2 separate regions of the Homo sapiens genome follow, and region 1 is linked to region 2. Evidence: fine-mapped expression QTL. Tissue or cell type: cerebellar hemisphere. Region 2 holds a variant in brackets; the other region holds the start of a gene. All regions are shown on one strand. Distances are between the middles of the regions.

The links. PIP is the estimated chance that this variant, and not a neighbour inherited with it, causes the effect.
Region 1: RMND5B starts here. The variant in region 2 is fine-mapped to the expression of RMND5B in cerebellar hemisphere (GTEx, PIP above 0.99).

The regions. Positions count from the first base shown.
Region 1 is chr5:178,126,302-178,134,393 of GRCh38, reverse strand. It overlaps RMND5B (required for meiotic nuclear division 5 homolog B), which reads right to left and starts at 3,380. Exons shown (of 11, transcript NM_022762.5): 1 at 3,340-3,380; 2 at 3,018-3,157. It also overlaps a transcript of N4BP3 not described here. RefSeq lists enhancers at 1,747-2,276, 3,555-4,206, 4,207-4,858, 5,872-6,532, 7,195-7,855 and a silencer at 3,234-3,823.
Region 2 is chr5:178,194,659-178,202,760 of GRCh38, reverse strand. No RefSeq gene overlaps it. Among named protein-coding and RNA genes, the nearest start is that of HNRNPAB, 5.8 kb to the left of the region's middle. The variant C/T (reference allele first, on the strand shown) is at 3,634.

The DNA of each region.
Region 1 (8,092 bases), 68 kb after region 2:
TGCCCAACACTACCATGGTTGACATATAAACCCTTTGCAATAATGTATTTGCTTCCTTTGCACAAGTTGTTCCCATTTTTAGAGTGCCCTCTGCACTTCTTTGTATAGAGTACGTAAGCTGTAGTTAAATTATCACCTCCCCTTGAGCCCTCAGTGAAATCTCCCTGCCTCCTTTTCTGCTTCATAACCTGGCAAGAGTGGCCACACCACACCCATCGAGTCCTCAGCTACTGCAGCACAGTAACAGCCTGTCCACGTCAGCCTCCTCCATTGGTCTGTGAGCTGCTCGATGGCTGGAATGTAGTCTTGTCCTTTCTCCCCCTCAGTGCCCAGACTAGGGCCTGGTCCATGGTAGATGCTCAGTAAACATTTGTTGATTGGGGCAGGGCGCGGTGGCTCACGCCTGTAATCCCAACACTTTGGGAGGCCGAGGCGAGTGGATCATGAGGTCAGGAGATCAAGACCATCCTGGCTAACACGGTGAAACCCCATCTCTACTAAAAAAATACAAAAAATTAGCCGGGTGTGGTGGCGGGCACCCGTAGTCCCAGCTACTCGGGAGGCTGGGGCAGGAGAATGGTGTGAACCCGGGAGGTGGAGCTTGCAGTGAGCCAAGATTGTGCCACTGCACTCCAGCCTGGGAGACAGCGTGAGACTCCGTCTCCAAAAAAAAAAAAAATTGTTGATTGGCCGGCGCAGTGGCTCACACCTGTAATCCCAGCACTTTGGGAGGCTGAGGTGGGTGGCTCACCTGAGGTCAAGAGTTTGAGACCCGCCTGACCAACATGGTGAAACTTCGTCTCTACTAAAAATACAAAAATTACCGAGGCGTGGTGGCGGGCACCTGTAATCCCAGCTACTCAGGAGGCTGAGGCAGGACAATCGCTTGAACCTAGGAGGTGGAGGTTGCAGTGAGCCAAGACCACGCCATTGCACTCCATCCTGGGCAACAAGAGCAAAAACTCCGTCTCAAATTTAAAAAAACACACACACACATTTGCTGATTAAATGACACATCCATTTCCTAACTGCGCTGGAGAACCTGAGCTCAAATGTGTAGGAGTGGGTAGAAAAGAGACATGAGTGAAATATTAAAATCTCCACAAAGGCATGTATGGAGGTTTATCCTGGAGTATTTAGCATCCTGAAACAAGGGGCTCCTGTGTAAGGAGAAAGGAAGTTTGAGCAAATCATAAAGGTCCCTTTTGCCTGACAAAGATTAGACAACATCGGCTGGGCGTGGTGGCTCATGCCTGTAATCCCAGCACTTTGGGAGGCCGAGGCAGGCGGATCACAAGGTCAGGAGTTTGAGACCAGCCTGACCAACATGGCGAAACCCTGTCTCTACTAAAAATACAAAAATTAGCTGGGCGTGGTGGTGCGTGCCTGTAATCCCAGCTACTCGGGAGGCTGAGGCAGGAGAATTGCTTGAACCCAGGAGGCAGAGGTTGCAGTGAGCTGAGATGGCGCCACTGCACTCCAGCCTGGGCGACAGAGTGAGACTGTCTCAAAAAAACAAACAAACAAACAAAAACAAAAAAAAAAGATTAGACAACCTCCATTGACCCAATTCTTAACGCTTTTTTTTTTTTTTTTTTTTTTTTGTGAGGCAGGGTCTCTTCAGTTAATAGGGTTGCTTAAAAAAAAAAAAAAAAAGAGAGAGACAGGGTCTCAATCTGTTTCCCAGGCCAGAGTGCTGTGGTACAATCAGGGCTCACTGCAGCCTCGACCTCCTGGGCTCAAGTGATCCTCCCACCTCAGCCCCCCACCCCAAGAAGCTGGGACTACAGGTGCACCATGTAGTCCCACCATGAACACTCCTGAGTTCATGACACATGTAAGTGGTCCATGCAGGGCCTTTTCTCCTTTGTGTTTATTTATGTATTCCCTTTTGTCCCTATTCTTCCCCTCTCTCCCCACCACACCTGGCTAATTTTTTTGTTGTTTGTTTTTGAGACAGAGTCTTACTCTGTCGCCCAGGCTGGAGTACAGTGGCACGATCTTGGCTCATTGCAACCTTTGCTTCCCAGTTTCAAGCGATTCTCCTGCCTCAGCCTCCCAAGTAGCTGGAATTACAGACACCTGCCACCACACCCGGCTAAATTTTGTATTTTTAGTAGAGACGGGGTTTCACCATGTTGGCCAGGCTGGTCTTGAACTCCTGGCCTCAAGTGATCCTCCCGCCTTGGCCTCCCAAAGTGCTGGGGTTACAAGCGTGAGCCACTGCGCCCAGCCTAATTTTTTGGAGCGACAGGGTTTCACCATGTTGGCCAGGTTGGTCTTGAAGTGCTGAGCTCAAGCCGTCTGCCAGTCTCAGCCTCCCAAAGTGCTGGAATTACGGGCGTGAACCACCGTGCCCAGCCAATTCTTATGCTTTTGCAGCCGCGACCTCCATCCACTCTCTACCCTACATGTCACTCCTCTGCTTAAAACCAAAAGATTTCCACTGTACTTAGAAAAAACTCCACATTCCTCTCTCTGACCTACAGACTCTATGTGACCAAACCCCAATTATCCGACCTCATCTCCTACCACTCTTTCCCTTTCTTACCATACTTTAGCCACACTAGCTTGCTTTCTGTTCCTTGACTATACTCTCAGTTGATTTCTGCCCTAGGGCCTTCACACTGGCTGTTCCCGCTGCCTGGACCACTCTCTTCCCGTATCTTCCTAAGCCTGCCTCCTAATTTGGGTCTCAACGCAAATGTCCCGTCCTCAGAGATGCTCTGCTAGACCACAGTATCTAATACTGACCCCTCCGCCCCACCCTCACACCAGTTACCGTGTCATATCGCCCTCCTCCATTTTTTTTTTTTTTTTACTATACAGTCCTACTTGAAGTTTCTAATCTTTCTTTTCTCATTAACCAAAACTGGAGGGAGGAAAAAGCCCATCATTTTCCCTGGACAGCAGCGCCTACTGGGAGTTTCACCCGCATTAACATGCAAACGACAGGCAAACTCCTAGTCATCCTTCCAAAGACCCTGCTCCATAGCCCTGCCGAGCCCGGTGCGCACCTGCTCACTTCCGACCCAGCGCGGTCGCACGAGGACTGGACGTTTGAGTCCGAGCAACTCCCCCCGGCTGAGGCGGCTCTTCGGGGGCTGGGCCGGGACCTATGAGTCTGGGACTCCAGCTCCCGGCCCAGGGCCGACAACTGCGAAGAGAACAAGCCCAAGGGCAGATTGTTCGGGGCTTAGTCGTGGGTAGCAGGGGTTCTGGAGAAGGCTGGGGCCCGGGAGGCCGGCCGAGCTTTCCCCGCCGCGCGCCTCAGCTCCGCCGGCCGCTGTGCCCGCCCTCGGCCCGCACCTGCCGGCTCCCAAGCCCGCCCGCTCTCACCTCGCCCCGCAGCCCCGGCCCCGGCTTCCGGCGCCACTGTCATCGGAACCGGAAGCCGCGGCGGGCGATCGGCGGCCCGGGCCCGCCCATTGGCGGTTTTGCGGAGGGGTGGCCGTCCCACGAGCCCGCGGCTTTGCGCCTCACCGCCGAGGCTCCCCGCCGCGCATGCCGAGTGGAGTCGCCCGCGGGAACCGGGCGGCGGCCAGAAAAGCCGCGCCTGTAGTCCTCTGGGGGTCGCGCCTGGTCGTTTCCAGGTTCCGAGTCCCTCCGGCCCGGCCCCGGGCCTCCCAGTCGGCGGAAGCCCCTGGCCGCGACCGCTCCTCGCCGGCGGGCGGGTTCCCCACCCGGCAGAGGCGTCGGCCTCGCACTCAACCCAGCACCCGACTCCCGGGTCAGAAGCCCCAAGCCCCAAGTGGTTACGCTTACAGCGCTGCCCGCCCTGCTCAGTGAGGGCGGCGCGGGGGCCGTGAGGGGCAGTGGCTGGGCTAGGTGCGCACCGGCCTCGGCAGGGCTGTGGAGCAGGGTCTTTGGAAGGATGACTAGGAGTTTGCCTGTCGTTTGCATGTTAATGCGGGTGAAACTCCCAGTAGGCGCTGCTGTCCAGGGAAAATGATGGGCTTTTTCCTCTCTCCAGTTTTGGTTAATGAGAAAAGAAAGATTAGAAACTTCAAGTAGGACTGTGAACAGGCTTAGGGATCCTGGACAGAGCCTAGAAATCTCAGGAGAACTGAGAGCTCTTGAAATATGAAGTGATGCTTAAAAAAAAAAAGAAAACTCCAGGCCGGGCGCGGCGGCTCACGCCTGTAATCCCAGCACTTTGGGAGGCCGAGGCGGGCGGATCAGGAGGTCAGGAGATCGAGACCATCCTGGCTAACACGGTGAAACCCCGTCTCTACTAAAAATACAAAAAATTGGCCGGGCGAGGTGGGGGGCGCCTGTAGTCCCAGCCACTCGGGAGGCTGAGGCAGGAGAATGTCGTGAACCCGGGAGGCGGAGCTCGGAGTGAGCCGAGACGGCGCCACTGCACTCCAGCCTGGGCGACAGAGCGAGACTCCGTCTCAAAAAAAAAGAATAGAAAACTCCGGGCCGGGCGGCTCACGCCTGTAATCCCAGCACTTTGGGAGGCTGAGGCGGGCGGAACATAAGGTCAGGAGTTCGAGACCAGCCTGTCCAATATGGTGAAACCCCGTCTGTACTAAAAATACAAAAATTAGCCGGGAATGGTGGCAGGCGCCTGTAGTCCCATGATCCTAGCTACTCGGGAGACTGAGGCAGGAGAATCGTTTGAACCCGAGAGGCGGAGGTTGCAGTGAGCCGAGATCGCGCCATTGCACTCCAGCCTAGGCGACAGAGCGAGACTCCGTCTCAAAAAAAAAAAAAAGAAAAGAAAAGAAAACTCCTTTCCTGTCCCAGCCTTTCTGGTCCCCTTAGCCCGAACTTAATCTGCCCACTGGGTATTCAACAGAATTCAGTTCTGCGGAGGAGGGGGTCCAGCCCTACCCTGCCGCCCTGTGTTGGTCGCTGTCCTGGGGAACGGGGGAAGGGGAGAAGATGGGAGCTGCCCATCTGCCCTAAGGAGGAAGGGTGAGGGTTAGGAAGGAGGAGGGAACAGGCACTGACCCCAAACCCAGGTCCAGACTGAATTTTCTTTTTCTTTTTTTGAGATGAAGTCTTGCTCTGTTGCCCAGGCTGGAGTGCAGTGGTGTGATCTCGGTTCACTGCAACCTCCACCTCCAAGCTTCGAGCGATTGTCCTGCCTCAGCTCCATGAGTAACAGATTACAGACATGCTCCACCATGCCCGGCTAATTTTTGTATTTTTAGTAGAGAGGGGATTTTGCCATGTTGGCCAGGCTGGTCTCAAACTCCTGACCTCAGGTGATCCACCCACCACAGCCTCCCAAATTGCTGGGATTACAGGCATGAACCACCACACCCAGCCCCAGATTGAATTTTCTATCCCGGACCCTCTGCTCTGGAGGGAAAGAGTAGAGAAGTCCCCACTCCTCCTCAGGCCTCAGCTGGGACTAGGAACAGCCCTGGAGAAAAAGCCAGGTCTCTGTGTTGCCCACTTCTGCTCCCTTTTTGGTTGGGCCTCATTCCAGGCCATCCTCCCCTTGAATCCTCCATGCCTTCCCCTCCCTCCCCTTTGCACAACTTACTTTTTTTTTTTTTTTCAAAATAGAGAGGTGGTCTCCCTATGTTGCCCAAGCTGGTTGCGAACTCTTGGCCTCAAGAGATCCTCCCCTCTCAGCCTTTGGAAGTATTGGGATTACAGGAATGAGCCACCATTCCTTGCCCTGTTTTCTTTTTTTTTTTTTTTTTTGAGACGGAGTCTTGCTCTGTCGCCCAGGCTGGAGTACAATGGCATAATCTTGGCTCACTGCAACCTCCGCCTGCCAGGTTCAAGCAATTCTCCTGCTTCAGCCTCCTGAGTAGCTGGGACTACAGGTGCACACCACCATGCCTGGCTAATTTTTTGTATTGTTAGTAGAGACGGGGTTTCACCATGCTGGCCAGGCTGGTCTTGAACTCCTAACCTCGCGATCCGCCTGCTTCGGCCTCCCGAAGTGCTGGGACTACAGGCGTGAGCCACCGCACCCAGCCGACCTGTTTTCTTTATAGCACTTGGAAGTTATCTTGCGTGTTTATTTGTTCATTCTGTCTTCTGGCCCCCACTCCCATCACCCTCTTTGGGGCCAGACATGGTGGCTCACGCCTGTAATCCCAGCACTTTAGGAGGCTGAGGAGGGAGGAATGCTTGTGCCTAGGAGTTCTAGACCAGTCTGGACAACATAGGGAGACCCTGTCTGTACAAATAATACAAAAATTAGCCGGGTGTGGTGGTGCACATCTGTAGTCTCAGCTACTTGGGAGGCTGAGATGGGAGGCTGCCTAGGAGGTCGAGGCTGCAGTGAGCAGTGATCGCGCCACTACTCCAGCCTAGATAACAGAGTGTGAGAGACCCTGTCTCAAAAACAAACAAACATGGGCCAGGCGTGGTGGCTCATACCTGTAATCCCAGTACTTTGGGAGGCCAAGGCGGGTGGATCATTTGAGGTCAGGAATTCAAGACCAGCCTGGCCAACATGGTGAAACCCTGTCTCTACTGAAAATACAAAAAAAAAAAAAAATTAGCCAGGCATAGTGGCAGACACCTGTAATCCCAGCTACTTCGGAGGCCGAGGCAGGAGAATCGCTTGAGCCCGGGAGGCGGAGGTTGCGGTGAGCCAAGATTGCACCACTACACTCCAGCCTGGGCAACAGAGTGAGACCCTGTCTCAAAACAAAACAAAAACGAACAACAAAAAAAAAAATTCCACCAGGCCCATGTTTTGTCTTCATCACTGCCTTATCGCCAACACCATATGCTTTGCACACAGGAGGTACTCAGAGATACTCAAGAAGCCAGTGTCCTCCACGTATACATAAGGAAACTGCGGCTCAAAAACCTTATGATATATAGCAGGGGAGAAGGCCCACAGCAGGACTGTGTGCCTGCAGGGGCGTCAGGAGGGCGGATCCCAGAGATGCCTGCCCAAGCATGAGGAGCCTGGGTGGCCCTGGCCCAAACGGAAGCCATAGGGGTGGAGAGTTGATTGAACCTTGCCTTGGTGCCAAGGGGCCCAAGCCACCTTCCAGCCAACCTGACCTCACAGGCTTTGGCAAATGCCCCAGGCTTCCCCACTTCCTCTCCGGGAGCCTTGGCCTGCCTCACAGCCAAGAAGGATGTGAGCAAAGTTGAGGTTCTCCCCCAGTATGTGGCCATCCTTGCATCTTGGTATTATTTTCAAGTGTGCACCAAGTTGTATTAAATAGTTGACTTTGTCCATCTTTCCCCATAGGGATTGTTTTTGATTTTTGTTAGGGATGGGGAGGATTCCTTCAAAGCAATCAATTCTCCCATTAATTCAGTAATAATTGAATTAACTTTTTGCCAGCGTAGAAGTTTTAAACATTCCCTGTATTCTCCGAAGCTTCAATAATTTGAGTCTCTGGAATAAAATTGACAGTAGACAGATTAATAGGAGAAAAGGCATGCAAATTTATTACATACATGCACAGGAGTCCCACAAAATGTGAGACTCTAGTAAGGGCCAGACTGATGAAGTCTAAATAGCATTTGAGCTCCAAAAACTGGGGCCTGAGGTTTCTGGGAGGAGGTGGCAGCAGACGCTAGGAGGTTGAGGGGAGGAAATGCATGGCAAACAAAGGCTGTCTTGTCATGCAGATAAAACCTCTCAAGCAGCCCAGTCCTCAGAAGAGATGGTATCACCTTCAGTATCCTTTCCTGTGAGTTAATTGTCCATGTTTTATGAGATGCTAGGGAAAGGGCTCAAGACAATGGCATTCCTTCTGCAGGAACTTCCCTTAGAAACAAAAGAGAACATCAGAGAAGGCCCCTCCCTGCGCTTCAGGAGGGTTTTGGGAGGGAAAAGGAGTGAGCGATGGTCAGATACTTTAGTTCAAAGCATTCAGCCTCCCACAGCTTCATACTTTGGGGTATCATTTTCTGAGCCCCACCACCAATTTCCTAGGATAGGATTTTTAAAATTTAACTCAATAAATGCAGGGGTGGGCCAAGCGCCGTGGCCCACGCCCATAATCCGAGCACTTTGGGAGGCTGAGGCGGGTGGATCACGAGGTTAGGAGATCGAGACCATCCTGGCTAACATGGTGAAATCCTGTCTGTACTAAAAATACAAAAAATTAGCCAGGCGTCGTGGCAGGCGCCTGTAGTCTCAGCTACTCAG
Region 2 (8,102 bases):
GAGCCTCCTGCCTCAGCCTCCCAAGTAGCTGGAACCAGAAACGTGGCCACCACGCCAAGCGAATTTTTTGTAAACACAGGGTCTCCCTATGTTGCCCAGCTAGATCACCAGGTTTTTTTTTTCTTTGAGACGGGGGTCTCGCTCTGTCGCCCAGGCTGGAGTACAGTGGAGCCATCTCAGCTCACAGCAACCTCCACCTCCCAGGTTCTAGCGATTCTCCTGCCTCAGCCTCCTGAGTAGCTGGGATTGCAGGTGTGTTCCACCATGCCGGGCTAATTTTTGTATTTTTAGTAGAGATGGGGTTTTACCATGTTGACCAGGCTGGTCTTGAACTCCTGATCTCAGGTGGATCACCAATTTTAAATGAGAAAACTGAAGTCAAGAGCAGCGGCCCAAAGCTACACAACCAACTCAGGCACTAACTCCACCCAGGCACTGGAGTTGCCCTGAGAATGAAAAATGAAGATACGTGGATTTCAGGCTTCTCTAGGAAAGTCCGAAGATTTAGCTCACACTGTACTGCCTTCCCCCAAAGTAACAATCAAGTGCAGCTGGGATACCCATACCCAGGTGGGCAAGTGCCCTCTGGTTCACCCCAAGGCCACTCTTCACTGTCCCAGGCTAATTCCATAACAGGAAGTCACATATTTCCACACGACCTTACTCATGTCACTGAGATCTGGCAGCAAGGCTTTCAGGGCGGTCTCTAACAAACTGCTCACCCCACCTCCACCCCAGCCCTTGCCAACCCACAGAAATGAGGGCCAGGGCTGTGGCCTGCAGGAGATGATGGGCACAGCTCCCCAAGCAGTGAAGGTAATTCAGGAAATTAAGTTCAAAGTCAAATAGTGTAGGTGCAGCCCAAAGACATTACTGCAGGCATAAATTCCCTTAATCTTCCACGTGGATTTCTTTAGCACGACTCAGAAACACTTTCAGTGACGTGTAAAGTCTGAGGATACAACATTTGGACAGCGCTTAGCAGTTTGCAAAATGCTTTCACCAACCTTGCTTTACTGGAGCTTCAAAATAGCTTTGTGCAGTTACCCATATTTTATACACAAGAATACTGAAACCACAGCTAAAACTGTGGCCATGAAACCAACACGTCCAACTCCACATTGGGGATTGTTTCCAGGGCTCCTGGCTACTGTGGGACAAGGTGTGTCTGAGCTTCTGAGTTCCTTGATGTAAATTAGATCTCCTATCAAAGATCTAATTTATTCTGAGGCTCAGCTGGGCGTGGTGGCTCACGCCCGTAATCCCACCACTTTGGTAAGCCAAGGCAGGAGAATCCCATGAGGCCAGGAGTTTGAGACCAGCCTGAGCAACATGGTGGAACCCCCATCTCTACTAAAAATACAAAAAAAAGTCTGGGCATGGTGGCCCAGGCCTGTAGTCCCCCCTGCTCGGGAGGCTGAGGCACAAGAATCACTCGAACCTGGGAGATGGAGGTTGCATCGAGCCGAGATCGCACCACTACACTCCAGGCTAAGTGACACAGCGAGACTCTGTCTCAAAATAAATAAATAAATAAATAAAGAATCCTGAAGCTCAAATAAGGTAATGGCTTAGAAAACACTTCATAAACTAGAAAGAACTGCAGGCAGGTAGGGGTCAGTCTCAGCAAAAAATAAAAAATGCCGGGCCGGGTGCGGTGGCTCACGCCTGTAATCCCAGCACTTTGGGAGGCCGAGGCAGGCGGATCGAGACCATCCTGGCTAACACGGTGAAACCCTGTCTTTACTAAAAATACAAAAATTAGCCGGGCGTGGTGGGGGGGCGCCTGTAGTCCCAGCTACTCGGGAGGCTGAGGCAGGAGAATGGTGTGAACCCGGGAGGCAGAGCTTGCAGTGAGCCGAGATCGTGCCACTGCACTCCAGCCTGGGGGACAGAGCCAGACTCTGTCTCAAAAAAATGAAATTACATAAATAAATAAATAAAGCCTTCATATTGTATCCAAGGGTGTTTCTGCCAGAGGCAAGGCACCACACTGTTTGGGAAACAGCAGGAAGTCCTTTTGACACAAGCCTCCCTACTTTTGTTATTAGGTTCAGTTACAGACCCTGAGTAGAGGGCAATTCCATGACAGTGAGGTTCTCAAGTCAGCCAGGAGCTCAGTTACCCCTGAAAATCTCTTAAAAGGCCCATAGAGTATACACTCCCTGGGTTTGGGCTATTCAGAATATATGCATAAAATGTGGACAATCTCCAATCTAGGAAAGGACATACACAAAATGCTTTTGGATTGTTTTTTAATTACATGAATTGATTTTTCTCACATTCTTTTTTTCGGTTTTTTGGCTGAGCCTGCAAGGTGGAAGTTGCATGAGTTAACTACAAATATATCGTGCCTCTGCTGTGGCCAACTCCCGCTGCAGCCACTTTCCCCGCTCCACCAAACTCCAGCTCCCCTGCTTCAGAGGAGTCCTCTAGCCAGATGAATCTTTCTAAAACACAAGTCATAAGATCTGAGAGCTACAGTGAAAAAAGGAAAAACTGAAAATGCAAGTCCCATCTTGTCACTACCTCTGTGTGAAAACCCTGGCTGACTTCCCAGTGCTGTCAGGATGAAGTCTTAGCCTTGACTTCGGGTGAATACGAGTGGGACAGACAGTTGGGGCTCCCAGAAATCTGTGCCCCCACCTTGCCAGCCTCCCCTGCTGTGTGGTCTGTGAGTGGAAGAGTTCCTTTCAGGCTGGGGCCATGGAGACTGGGGGCCTTGTCCAGACTTCCCTTCACCCCGCGACCATGTGTTCTACACGGCTGAGCTACCTCATGGAGAAGAGCTGTTCGGCCCACATCAGATTTGACACAAGCTGAAAATGAACCTGTACTGGGCCTGGCACTGAGATTTGGGATTTTTTTTTTCTCTCAAACTGTAGCCTGGCCTACTCTCACCCTCCCACCTGGCCTATAAGGTCCAGCATGAGTCGCCTCAGCTGCACCTCCTTGCCACTCTCCACTCCAGCTGTGCTGAATTTCTTTTACTTCCTAGAACTCACCAGTGCCCTCCTGCCTTTGGGCCTTTTCACCTGCTGTTTTCTCTACCTGGAACAGTCTTCCCAAATGTCACCTAACTACTGTACACATTGGGAGTTGAATTGTGTGCCCCCGCAAAAGACATGTTCACAGCCGGGCATGGTGGCTTACTCCTGTAATCCCAGCATTTTGGGAGGCCGAGGTGGGCGGATCACGAGGTCAGGAGATCGAGACCATCCTGGCTAACAGTGAAACCCCGTCTCTACTAAAAATACAAAAAATTAGCCAGGCGTGGTGGTGGGCACCTGTAGTCCCAGCTACTCAGGAGGCTGAGGCAGGAGAATGGCGTGAACCCGGGAGGTGGAGCTTGCAGTGAGCCAAGATCATGCCACTGCACTCCAGCCTGGGCGACAGAGTGAGACTCCGTCTCAAAAACAAAAAAAAAGTTACGTTCAAATCCTAACTCCTGGTGCCTCTGAATGTGGCCATACTTGGAAATAGTCTTTTCAGGTGGAATCAAGTTAAGATGAGGTCAAACTGGAGTATGAGGATTAAAGGCCCATATGGGAGTAGGGTGGGCCTTTAATCCTGTATGACTGGTGAACTTTGGAGGGGGAAAGACAGACACACGGGAAAAATGCCACATGACCA[C/T]GGAGGCAGAGATTGCAGTGATGCATCTATAGGCCAAGAAGCACTGAGGATTGCTGGCAACACCGGAAACTAGGAGCGGGGCAAAGATCCTCCCTTGAAGCCTTCAGAGGGAGCACGGGCCCTGCTGACAGCTTGATTTTAGACTTCCAGCCTCAAGAACTGTGAGAGAATACAGCTGGGTTGCTGTAAGCCACCGGGTTGCGGCACTTGATCACAGCAGCCCCAGAAACCAAACACAACATCCAACAGACTTCCTCCTCCTCCTATGGGAAGTGTTGTGTCATACCCCGAGGAAGGGTGCCCCTCAGAACATGGGCCACACTGTTGACATTGACTGTGAGCGCCCTGAGACCCTGCATCGGGTCTGTCTCCTCCACCCTGACTCCTACGGTGGGCACGCCAGTGCCTGCAGAATGAATACGAGATCTTTTTTTTTTTTTTTTTTTTTGAGACAGAGTCTCGCTCTGTTGCCCAGGCTGGAGTGCAGTGGCATGATCTCAGCTCACTGCAACCTCTGCCCCCTGGGTTCAAGCAATTCTCATGCCTCAGTCTCCCGAGTAGCTGGGATTGCAGGTGTGCGCCACCACACCTGGCTAATTTTGTACTTTTAGTAGAGACAGGGTTTCACTGTGTTGGCCAGGCTGCTCGCAAACTCCTGACCTCTGGAGTTCGGCCTCCCAAAGTGCTGGGATTACAGGCGTAAGCCACTTCGCCCAGCCCCAAATCTCATCCTGAATTGTAATCCCCATAATCCCCATGTGTCATTGGAGGGACCTGGTGGGAGGTAATCGAATCGTGGGGGCGGTTTCCCCCATGCTGTTCTAGTGATAGTGAGTACTCACGAGATCTGATGGTTTTATAAGCATCTGGCATTTCCCCTGCTGGCACTCATTCTCTCTCCTGCTGCCCTGTGAAGAGGTGCCTTCCGCCATGATTGTAAGTTTCCTGAGGCCTCCCCACCATGCGGAACTGAGTCAATTAAACCTCTTTCCTTTATAAATTACCAAGTCTCAGGTATTTCCTTATAGCAATGTGAAAACAGACTAATACTGTTTCAAACCAGCACCTTGTGGACTAAAGTTGACTCTTGAACCTACTTGCTTGCCCTGTACAGTGCTTTGTTCTGTTTTTGTTTTTGAGATGAGGTCTCACTGTGTCGCCCAGGCTGGAGTGCAGTCACTATTCACCTGCGTGATTGCAGCTCAGTGTAGCCTCAAACTACTGGCCTCAAGTGATCCTCCCGCTTCAACCTCCCTAGCAGCTGAGACTAAAATTGCACACCACCTCACCCAGTCCTACACAGTGTTTGGCTCATTTGAAAAAATTGTTTGCCAACATTTATGGATTATGACATTTCTTTCATATATACATATACACACATACACATATATATGTGTGTGTATATATACGTATATATGTGTATATGTGTATATATGTGTATATATGTATATATATAATATATACATATATATGCGTATATATGTACACATATATACGTATATATATACATGTATATACATATATATACACACACACATATATATACACATATATGTATATTTTTTAGATGGAGTCTCACTGTGTCGCCCAGGCTGGAGTGCAGTGGCATGATCTTGGCTCACTACAACCTTCACCTCCTGGGTTCAAGCGATTCTTGTGCCTTAGCTTCCCAAGTAGCTGGGATTACAAGCATGCACCACCACGCTAATTTTTGTATTTCTAGTAGAGAAAGGGTTTCCTCATGTTGGCCAGGCAGATCTCGAACTCCTGACCTCGTGATCCACCCGCCTCAGCCTCCCAAAGTGCTAGGATTACAGGTGTGAGCCACCGCGCCCTGCCGGATGATGGCATTTCTACACAAGGTTATACGTCCAGTTACTTTTGAAAAATTGTCAGCTAAGGTCACACTGGGCCACAGTGTCCTGTGTCCAGAATCAGTGGGAGCTGAGTCACAGTGACCCCCAGCGGATGAGGCAGGCACTGTCCAGCTAAACCCAGCCCCCACCATGTTCTAATGTCTTCCTCCAGGGTCCCACTAAACCTATTGACATTGACCAAGAGCATCTGAGATGTGGATCCCTAAGCAGACCTCCATGAAGTTCAGCTTCTTCATCTTTTTTTACATTTTTTCTGAGACAGGGTCTTGCTCTGAGTGCAGTGATGTGATCACGGCTCGCCTCGACCTCCTGGGCTCAAGTGATCCTCCCGTCTCAGCCTCCCACTTAGCTGGGACTACAGGCATGCACCACCACACCCAGCTTATTTATTTATTTAGCTAGGGACAGGGTCTCCCTGTGTTGCCCAGGCTAGTCTCAAACTCCTGGGCTCAAGCCATCTGCCTGCCTTAACTTCCCAAAGGGCTGGGATTACAGGCATGAGCCACAGCTCCCGACCTACTTCATCTTAAAAAAAAAGAGAATGGCACCTGTCTCTCCACCATCCTGCAGGGCTATGGGAGGACGGCTGCTAAGGGTTTAGAACAGCGCCCGCTGTGAGAGCTGCTGTGACTGCTAACAGCAACAGTGGAAGCATCCAAGGGAACATTCCTTTGCCTGCTGACACCCCCAGGCCCCCAGCCACCCCGCAACAATATATCTCAAAATACATCTCAAGTCAAATCCTTGAAACAGACAAGTAAGAGATCTGGAGAGAGAATCTGCTGGCGGCCTCCCTAAAATCACACATTCTTGCCACAGCCACCCCACGCCCTGCTGAGTCTCAGAGGCAGCCTCTGTCCATCAGAAACCAATCAGAAATGGCTAGAGCCCTATACTGGAATCAGTCCTTAATGAAGTATGTGATTCACATACAAAACCCTAATCCTCCCAGTTTCCTGGAGAGCTCACAAAGCTGCACACAGTGGGCACAGCTCACACAGGGGCCCGGCCTCATCTGCAACATTATCCCCTGTGTAGTCTTTGAAACTTCAGACTCCCTGACCTCTGGGGCTGGACTCTCACTTTTATGAAGCATTCTAGGCACCAGTCATTGGGACAGGGACAGATTTTAGGACTCACTACTGCAGATTAGGTGGGGAGAAAGCCTATTAAACCGGGAAATTTCTGTCTCCCTCTGAGAGGCAGCAGTGGCTCCTAAAAGAGGCTTTGTTTATGTTTATGTCTGCATTGCCACTAGGTCAGTGTGGACCTGCGGGCTCTTTCTTTGAGCCTCAGTTTCTTTTTTTCTTTCTTTTTTTTTTTTTTTTTTAGACAGGGTCTTACTCTCTGGCCCAGGCTGGATTGCAATGGTGTGATCTCGGCTCACTGCAACCTCCATCTCCCAAGTTCAAGCGATTCTCCTGCCTCAGCCTCCCTAGTAGCTGGGATTACATGCGCCCGCCACCATGCCCAGCTAATTCTTGTATTTTTAGTAGAGACGGGGTTTCGCCATGTTGGCCAGGCTGGTCTCAAACTCCTGACCTCACGTGATCCACCCACCCCAGCCTCCCAAAGTGCTGGAATTATAGGCATGAGCCACCGTGCCCAGATTGAGCCTCAGTTTCTTTTTTTTTTTTTTTTTTTTTGAGACAGACTCTCACTCTGTCGCCCAGGCTGGAGTGCAGTGGTGCAATCTCGGCTCACTGCAAGCTCCGCCTGCTGGGTTCACACCATTCCCCTGCCTCAGCCTCCGGAGTAGCTGGAACTACAGGCACCCGCCACCATGCCCAGCTAACTTTTTGTATTTTTTTTGGTAGAGATGGGGTTTCACCGTGTTAGCCAGGATGGTCTCAATCTCCTGACCTCGTGATTCGCCCGCCTCGGCCTCCCAAAGTGCTGAGACTACAGGCGTGAGCCACCGTGCCCGGCCGAGCCTCAGTTTCTGATTCCACAACAATTCATCTATTCACTCATGTATTTACTCAATTGAATTGTTGACGCTGCAATTGCCAGCAACATGCCCTTGACCTCCAGGACAGACTGGGTCTGTGAACTCTAAACCCTCATGCATAACTGTCCCTTAAACATCTTTACTGAGGCTAAGCAGGGGTTCTCCAGCAGAGATGGAAAAGAAGGGGTGCAGGCAGAGAAGACGACACAGCTCAGGTTCCAAGCTTGAGAAAGCAGAGGCTGCTTGGAGAACTGCAAGTTGCTCCACACGATGAAGAGGAGCTGGGACAGCGCGGCTGGGCAAGGGCTTTGGGTGCCACGACAAAGGGTTCAGATTTATCCCGCAGGAAACTGGAAGTCAGTGAATACTGCTATGGCGGTGGTCCAGTGGAGGAAATGGGAAGGAGGGGATGAACAGAGACATCGAGGAGGGTGAGTTGGCAGAACGTTGTGTTTGTGTGTGGTGACAACCCCCAACTCCATACATGGAGCAGGATGGGCAATAAGGCTGGAACACTGGACCAGAGCCGCTTGGTGGAGGGCCTTGGACTCAGAGGCTTGCTTCTCTCAAGGAGAAACCCTTTCACCCCCTGCTTCCTTGCTATGCCTCCTGCTGGTGGCACCAATTGTCTTGACCATTTT